Homo sapiens: one gene and its partner. The protein of the gene in region 2 purifies or fractionates together with the protein of the main gene of each other region. This does not show direct contact. Each region holds a gene or a part of one and is shown on either strand. Other genes may lie near its edges. The genes, in order: RNPEPL1 and DKK4.

Region 1 (3,707 bases), on a different chromosome or scaffold from region 2:
GCATGGCTAGTTGAGGTGGCTTAGCTTGCAGGATGTGAAGGTCTGATGGGAAGGGAAGAGAGATGTGGGGGAGAAAATGGCTGAAGAAATGAGGCTGAGTTGCGGGGTGGGGGCAGATGAAGGGCCATGGAGGGGACCCCTGGAGGGTAGAATGCAGGCAATGTTGAGAATGAGGATGCCTTGATTGACTGGAACTTATTTTTTTTTTTTTTTTACTCTCCACGACCTAATATCCCCAAGTGCATTTTCTGTTCCTATAACAATACCACGGACTGGGTAATTTATAATGAAAATAAATGTATTTCTTATAGTTCTGGAGGCTGGGAAGTCCAAGGGCGAGGGGCTGGCATCTGGTAAAGGCCTTCTTGCCACACCATTCCATGGGGGAAGATGGAAGAGCAAGAGGACACACAGCAAGAGACAGCTAAATTCATTTTTACAACACATGCTCATGATAACGAACCCACTCTGATAATGACATTAATGCATTCATCAAGGCAGAACCCTCATGGCCTAATCGCTTCTTAATGGTTCCACCTCTTAATACCATCACAATGGCAATTAAATTTCAACATGAATTTTGGAGGGAACATCCAAACCAGAGCACTGTTGACTGAGTTTTCATTTTTTATTTTAGTAATTGCTTTTTAAAAAATTTCCAGGGTCTCTGACTGGTTCTTTTTTATAAACTACCTGTTCTTGTTTCATAAGTGCCTCTTCATATGTTATGGTTTATTTCAAAAGTCGTCTTTAGGTCTGAGATTTTGATTATATGTGTTCTAAAGTCCTTTTCTGATTTTTCTGTTGCCTCTGTCTCAGGTGTAAGTTTGGGTTGAGTGGCCTGTTTTCCTTCACACTGTGTTGCTGCCCTGGGCAGGTGATTCTCAGTTGTGCCTTACCTTTACATCTGGAGTTTCCTAATGTTCTGTGCAAAGCATCTGGCCTTAGGAGAGAAACACCACCAATAAGTCCCAGTTAGAGTAGGGATGGCAGAGAAACACTCTGGGAGACAAGTCTGGACTGAACCTGTCATGGCCTGAGGGACTTAGAAAACCTTATTTGGACCTCCAGGGCCTAGAAATTTGCATGGGTCTCCTTCACTGTTTTTTCAGGCTTCAGCTTTCTAATCTATCTCTGTAGAAACCAGTCTTTCATCACGCTTCTTTTCCCTTTTTGAACATCATCTCCTACCTGCCTGACTAGGCCCTAATCCCCAAAATGCAGATCTCTCTCACATTCTGGCCTCAGCTCCGTCGTTGTCATTAGTGCTGTTTGCCATCTGCCCCCGCTTTTGTGCATATGGTGGGGTTGCAGCCCCTGTGGTTGTAGGCCCCTTAGAACTTCCACTGCCAGTGTGAGCCCCTCAACAGCTCTCTTATCCCTGGCAAGGTGCCTGGAAACATTTGAGATCTCTGTTCATCGGTACGGGTCCGAGAGTGGTCACATTGAAGAGAATCCCCCCTTCCCCTGCCAGCCTGAGGTGGGCCTGCAGCATGAGAAAGCTTTGTTGTGTGAGACGTCTGCGCTTCATAGTTGTGTGGCTGGAGCATAACGTGGCCTAATAGAGAAGCTGGCCGCTAGGAGAGGGGTGCTGTGCTAATAAAACGTGCGACCTGCCAGGATTTGGAATGTGGGCAGGCTGTTAGGTGGGGCAAAACATTTGGTAAAGCTCAACTGGGATGACTCATGAGGCAGACCGTGAGCTAAGTGTGCGTATCTAGTGGAGAGGTTGGGAAACAACACTGGCCTGAGTATCGGCCGGAGGCTGCATTGGACAAGGGACTGCAGGGAAGCGACGAGCTAAAAAAAAATTCTGCACTTGCAAGCTGGGTGGAAGAGGAACAAAGGTCAGGAACACAAGGACTTAGGGCTGAAAGAGCCCTCCTGTGTACCCCACGGGCGGGCACAGAGCCAAGACAGATTGTGGTGAGGGTGCCATCCTGGATCCAGATGCCCTCCTGCCCCCAGGGTCATGACGCTGGGCACTGCTGCTGAGTTTCCCAAAGCCAGGTGTCAGGCACAGGTGCGCAGCTCAGCAGCGTCCGGAGGTGGCGCTGTGGGCGTGGCTGTAGGCACGTGGAGTGGAGTCACCCGCAGACCACAGAGTCATTTCGAGAGCTGAATTGCAAAAGAAAGAAGAGCCCAGGATGAAAGTCTGTGACTGCTGGGACTTGAAAACAACCTTGGCGGGGAAGAGGCTGAGAAAGCAGTTCTGCCACTGAGCAGGGCTCCTTTGAGGACACCATCAAGCATGGTTAAGAAACAGGAAAGGGGTCCTCCCAAGGCTGGAGCCCCAGGCCACAGAGAACATGACTTGGGGGAGTGGGGTGTCCACTCCCAGGCAGGGGCCCTAGCTGTGCCTGCCTGGCAAGACTTTAGATGGCCATGCAGCAGGGGCTGCCAGGTGCCCTCCATACCCGCTTTCACAGGGGTTACTGCAGTCATCCTATCCCTGGGTGTGAGGGGCAGTGGCAGTCTTCTAGTTCCTAGGTCTCTGGATGGGGTGGCGCCTCCCCCAGACCTGATGTGAAGAAGGTACATGAAGCAACACATGTAGAGACGGCCCCAGACCCTAGACCAGAGTTGCCACCGCCACTGGAGGGGACTCATATGTCCTTGGGAGGGGAGGGGAGGGGCGGGGCATCCAGAACAGGAAGGAGGGTGAGTGGGACATTTGGTGACTGGGGACTGGACAGTGATGGTATCAGGGTTATTTGCCCAGCACCTCCTGCCCTCCCCACTTCCTGGCTGCCATGTGTGGAGTGGGGCTGTGACTGGGCCTGGCCAGCGGGTTGGGAGAAGAGACGTGCTGCTTCTGGGCCACGGCATGTTGGCCAGGTGTGCGTGGCACTGAGATGGTGGCGCCACATCCTTGGGGACTGTGAAGGGCAGCGACACCTATCGCCTGGGAAAATGGAAATCTCAGTTCTCCAAAACAAAACATGCCTGTCACCTTGTACCCATCTTGGGAAAGGATCACCACTGAGGCCGGGATTTGGCTTAAGCCACAGGTGAAGGCCCAGAGTGAAGGTGACACATGGCTTTCCTGTGACATCCAGAGGCTACTCAGGCCCAGGGGGTCCAGCCAAGGGGCTGGGCAGGATTCGGGGAGCCTGCTCTCGGGCTTATGTATCAGAGGAGGGGGCCACACCCAGCTCCTGACCAGCTCCAGGCCCCAAGTCCCGGCAGGCCAGCCCACCCTACACAGCCAGGAAGATGCAGAGGACAAGAGTCGCGAGAAAGAGCGCAGGAGATCAGGTTTGCAGAGTGGAAGTTTAATGGGACCATCACCGTGATACCCCATCACAGCAGTCCCAGGCTGGAGGCCCCAGGCTCTGGCCGCCTCTCCCAGCATGGTGGGCCTGGAGAGAGCACCAGCACCACCTCCCACTTTCCCTGGGGTATTGCTTTGCCCCTGTGCCTCCCACCCCAGGAAGCTACAAGAGACAGGCTGTCCTGTCCCCACACTCTCCCTGGGTCCTGGGACTCCCTGTTCTGAGGGGCTAAGGTTGCCTGGGGCCAGAGGGCCCTCCCCAGGGACAACCATCCTCTCCCTGTGTCCCCTGCCCCCCACACTGAGGGAATGTCTGTGTCCTTGTTCCTCTGCCAGGGGCCAACTGAGGCTGCCAACCCCAGGGGCGGGGTGCAGGGCTGTGCGGGGAGGGTGGCTCAGATCCCTGCAAGGAGGCGTGCTGCAGGGACAGCAC
Region 2 (3,918 bases):
TCCATATGTACATGTCTTCTATCTGGATCTCTCTCTCTCTCTGTGTCACCCAGGCTCTGTCATCCATACATACAAGTTTTCTGTCTGAATCTTTCTCTCTCTCTCTCTCTCTCTCTCTCTCTCTCTCTCTCTCTCTCTCTCTATATATATATATATATATATATATATAGGCTTAATCTCCTGGGCTTAAATGATTCTCCCACCTCAGCTTCCTGAGTTGCTGAAACTACAGGTGAACACCACTATGACTGGCTAATTTTTTTTTTTTTTGAGATGGAGTCTCACTCTGTTGCCGAGGCTGGAGTGCAGTGGCACCGTGTTGGCTCACTGCAACCTCGGTCTCCTAGGTTCAAACAATTCTCCTGCCTCAGCCTCCCGAGTAGCTGGGATTACAGGTGACCACCACCACGCCCGACTAGTTTTTATATTTTTAGTAGAGACAGGGTTTCACCATATTGGCCAGGCTGGTCTCGAACTCCTGACCTCAGGTGATCCATCCACCTCAGCCTCCCAAAGTGGTGAGATTACAGGCGTCAGCCACCGCACGCGGCCTACTTTTTTTTTTTTTTTTTTTTTTGTGGAGACAGGATCTCAATATGTTGCCCAGGCTCGTCTTGAACTCCTGAGCTCAGGAGATCTTCCCACCTTGGCCTCCCAAAGTGCTGGGATTACAGGTGTGAGCCACTGTGCCCGGCCATTGGAGTTTCAAATTTTATTCCTAACATGTAATCCGAGGCTCTGTTCCATGCCAAGTGCTCTAAGTGCTCAGTGGCTGTTTGTGCCGTGTTACAGGAGTTCCCGTCAGTTCTTTCGCCTGTGTATATTGCCAGGGGCCTTTGGTAACCTGAAATTCCCTTACAGTGAGGCAGCAGGAAGCAGAGAAACCCGGCAGAGACAGAACCCTGGGGGCTCTTTCCTTTATCCTTGGTCATAATTGTACAACTTGAAAATAAATTCTGTAACACCCCTAGTCACCAGGGTTATCATGCTATCAAAGGGTGTTGTTTGATGTCAGTTTAAGGGATTAAAACAAGTAACTTCCATACGAGAGGTAGACAAGCAATACCAACCCAAGGACAAGGGCCAAGTAGTAGGAAGGCTCGAATCACCTGCATCACCCTCGGAATGGCACTGCATTACTCAAAATTGAGAATGTTCCCATGCACAGAATGCTGAGATTCATGTCAATGAATTGATGTTAGGTTGTTCTGCAGGAAAATGTAGTAAATAATAAGATTATCATTTATGGCATAGAAAAAATGCATTTTAGATGACTCTATGCTAAGAGCAATGAAACAATGAAGAGAAAAAATGATTTTTTGATCCAGATCTAGATTGTTCTACCCTTAAAGTATTTAAGACAGTGATAAGCACATGTCTAAATTACCTGACTAATAGTCCAAATGGAAAAAAATCAGACAGGAAAGGGATGAAGCAGAAGTTTTAAAAAATTCGTATTAGGAAAATTGGAAATACATGAAATTTCATCTGAAATCAGCCAGAGACTTGGATCCTTGTTCTGCTTAAGTGAGTTTTACATAATGCAACACAAATTAAATATGTTGCTGATAAAATGGACCCAAAGCTTCGTACTGAATTGTGTAAAATGCGCTATCATTGTTCCCACCATTGAAAAATGGGATTTTCATAAATTACATTATTTTCCTAATAACCCTAACTTCAAACAGTTCAATTTTCATTTAAAGGAAAGTAATTTCCCAAATGGCATTTAGTCAGAACAGGTGCTGTTACGTTCACAACTTTTAAGCGGTTGGGATTTTGACATCTGGATGCCAGAGCTAATCAGGGGGCGTTTTCTCTTTTTCTATCTGTCCTCACTATCTGAAGCCCAGTTTACAGCTTCTCAGTGTATTTTGTACCTCATTAGTTTTTGGCATCCTCTATAGCATATTGGCCAGTATGATTCATCCTTTCTTTGAGCACAATTAGCTGTGAAAACAGATCTTAGGGCAGACTCCCTCCCTACCCCCAAAGGATTACTGAAGGTAGGAAATGCAGGTGATTATCAGAGTTTGCCTTTGATACAGACATCCTGCTCTGCCGTGGCCCTTTGAACTAACTTTGATATGCAATAATTAAGAGGGATTGAACCCCTGGAGGAGAAGCCGCATGGCCCTGCCTCTTCTCTCCTTCTATTGAGTCCTTGTTTTGAACTATTGATCAAACAGATTTGAAGGGATTTGTTGAAGCCTGTGTGGGGCAGGAGGAAGGAACGGAGCGGGGAGGAGGCACATCTGGTTATAAATAGTTTCAGGAGGAACCTGCTGGTCAGACTTTGCTCAGCCGATTTCACGCACCTTACTCAGACTAAGGTTTACTTCTTTCAGAAAAAGCAGTGACAAACAGACGACGTGCTGAGCTGCCAGCTTAGTGGAAGCTCTGCTCTGGGTGGAGAGCAGCCTCGCTTTGGTGACGCACAGTGCTGGGACCCTCCAGGAGCCCCGGGATTGAAGGATGGTGGCGGCCGTCCTGCTGGGGCTGAGCTGGCTCTGCTCTCCCCTGGGAGCTCTGGTCCTGGACTTCAACAACATCAGGAGCTCTGCTGACCTGCATGGGGCCCGGAAGGTAAGGCTGCTAGGGAGGGGGGCGAGGTACGGGACTGCTGACAGCTGGGGTGTTTTGTTTAGGCTTTAGTAAGTCATTCTGATTCATGTATGAAATGTCTTACCTAGCAGGTAAATTGAATTGGTTTCGGATTTGGGAGGGCATCCTGGTAGGATCAGTGGCCTTAGTGTGAATGTATGAAATAAACACAGTGGCTTTTCACATCATTCGGCCATACGTTTGTCTATAAATCACGAAATAAACGAACACTTTGGAAGCTCTACTATGTGCCAGCTCTTTTACATGTAATACGTCATGTACTCTTCCTCACAATTTGAGATAGGTGAAACATTCCCTAATTCCAGATGAGGAAATAAGACTCAGAGATGTTGAAGAGCTTACCCAAGCTCACACAGCCAGCAAGCAAACATGGGAATGAGAATTTAAACAGAGGGCCATGATGCATTGCCTTGTCACCATCTAACTTCACAGAGAGAGTTGTTTTAGGAATCGCTTTATGTATGTGTATATGTTATTATATATCGTATAGATTATTACATATATCATATATGCTACACCTACGTTGTATGTCTATGTAGAAGCATCAACTGTGTATGAGAACAATTGATCTTCGGTATCTCTTTCTCTATGTCAATGAGGCATCATTGAAAATCAAAGGACAGTTCACTTAGGGAAGGGTCTCTAAGCTAAATGTGATTCACTAGAGTAAAAAATCAAATAGGAATGCCACAAACATCAATAGTATGTTTAATGAAACTGTAGCCAGCTTCTAGAGTTAAGATATATTGAAAATCTCATACTCACCTGTTAAGACACACATAGGAAAACATTTTTTCCCATTTTCACAAAGAGCACAGGAAAACTAAATTCTGAGTTAAGTCAATTTTTCAAACTCAAATAGCCTTTGCAGCGCCTAGGTCTCCCCGGGTGACATGAGCTTCCCTTTGTGGGAGAAAACCATTTCCACTGGAGAGTAAGATGCTGCCCAGGGTTTGTCACAGCGCCACTGTCCTTTGGCTCCCTCCGCCTCCTGCCTTCAATAATAAGTCATCTTCCATCGTGTTGGGGGTTTCCTAGCCTTGTGATAACAGATTCCCTCCACAGGGCTCACAGTGCCTGTCTGACACGGACTGCAATACCAGAAAGTTCTGCCTCCAGCCCCGCGATGAGAAGCCGTTCTGTGCTACATGTCGTGGGTTGCGGAGGAGGTGCCAGCGAGATGCCATGTGCTGCCCTGGGACACTCTGTGTGAACGGTGAGCGACATAACGCCAACAGTGGTTTTTAAACCGAAGGTAGTGTCTAAGCCCCATAGACTAGAATATTCCAGGGT

The links.
Region 1: the proteins of DKK4 (region 2) and RNPEPL1 purify together in Homo sapiens (affinity purification with mass spectrometry; 2 studies listed by BioGRID and IntAct, with this or other methods). This does not show direct contact.

Annotation. Positions count from the first base shown.
Region 1 is NC_000002.12:240,578,280-240,581,986, reverse strand, and holds the end of RNPEPL1 (aminopeptidase RNPEPL1), read right to left. Parts: 3' UTR 615-3,707; downstream 1-614. UniProt on the Homo sapiens protein: Broad specificity aminopeptidase which preferentially hydrolyzes an N-terminal methionine, citrulline or glutamine.
Region 2 is NC_000008.11:42,375,603-42,379,520, reverse strand, and holds the start of DKK4 (dickkopf-related protein 4 precursor), read left to right. Parts: upstream 1-2,291; 5' UTR 2,292-2,475; coding exon 2,476-2,586; intron 2,587-3,690; coding exon 3,691-3,841; intron 3,842-3,918. UniProt on the Homo sapiens protein: Antagonizes canonical Wnt signaling by inhibiting LRP5/6 interaction with Wnt and by forming a ternary complex with the transmembrane protein KREMEN that promotes internalization of LRP5/6.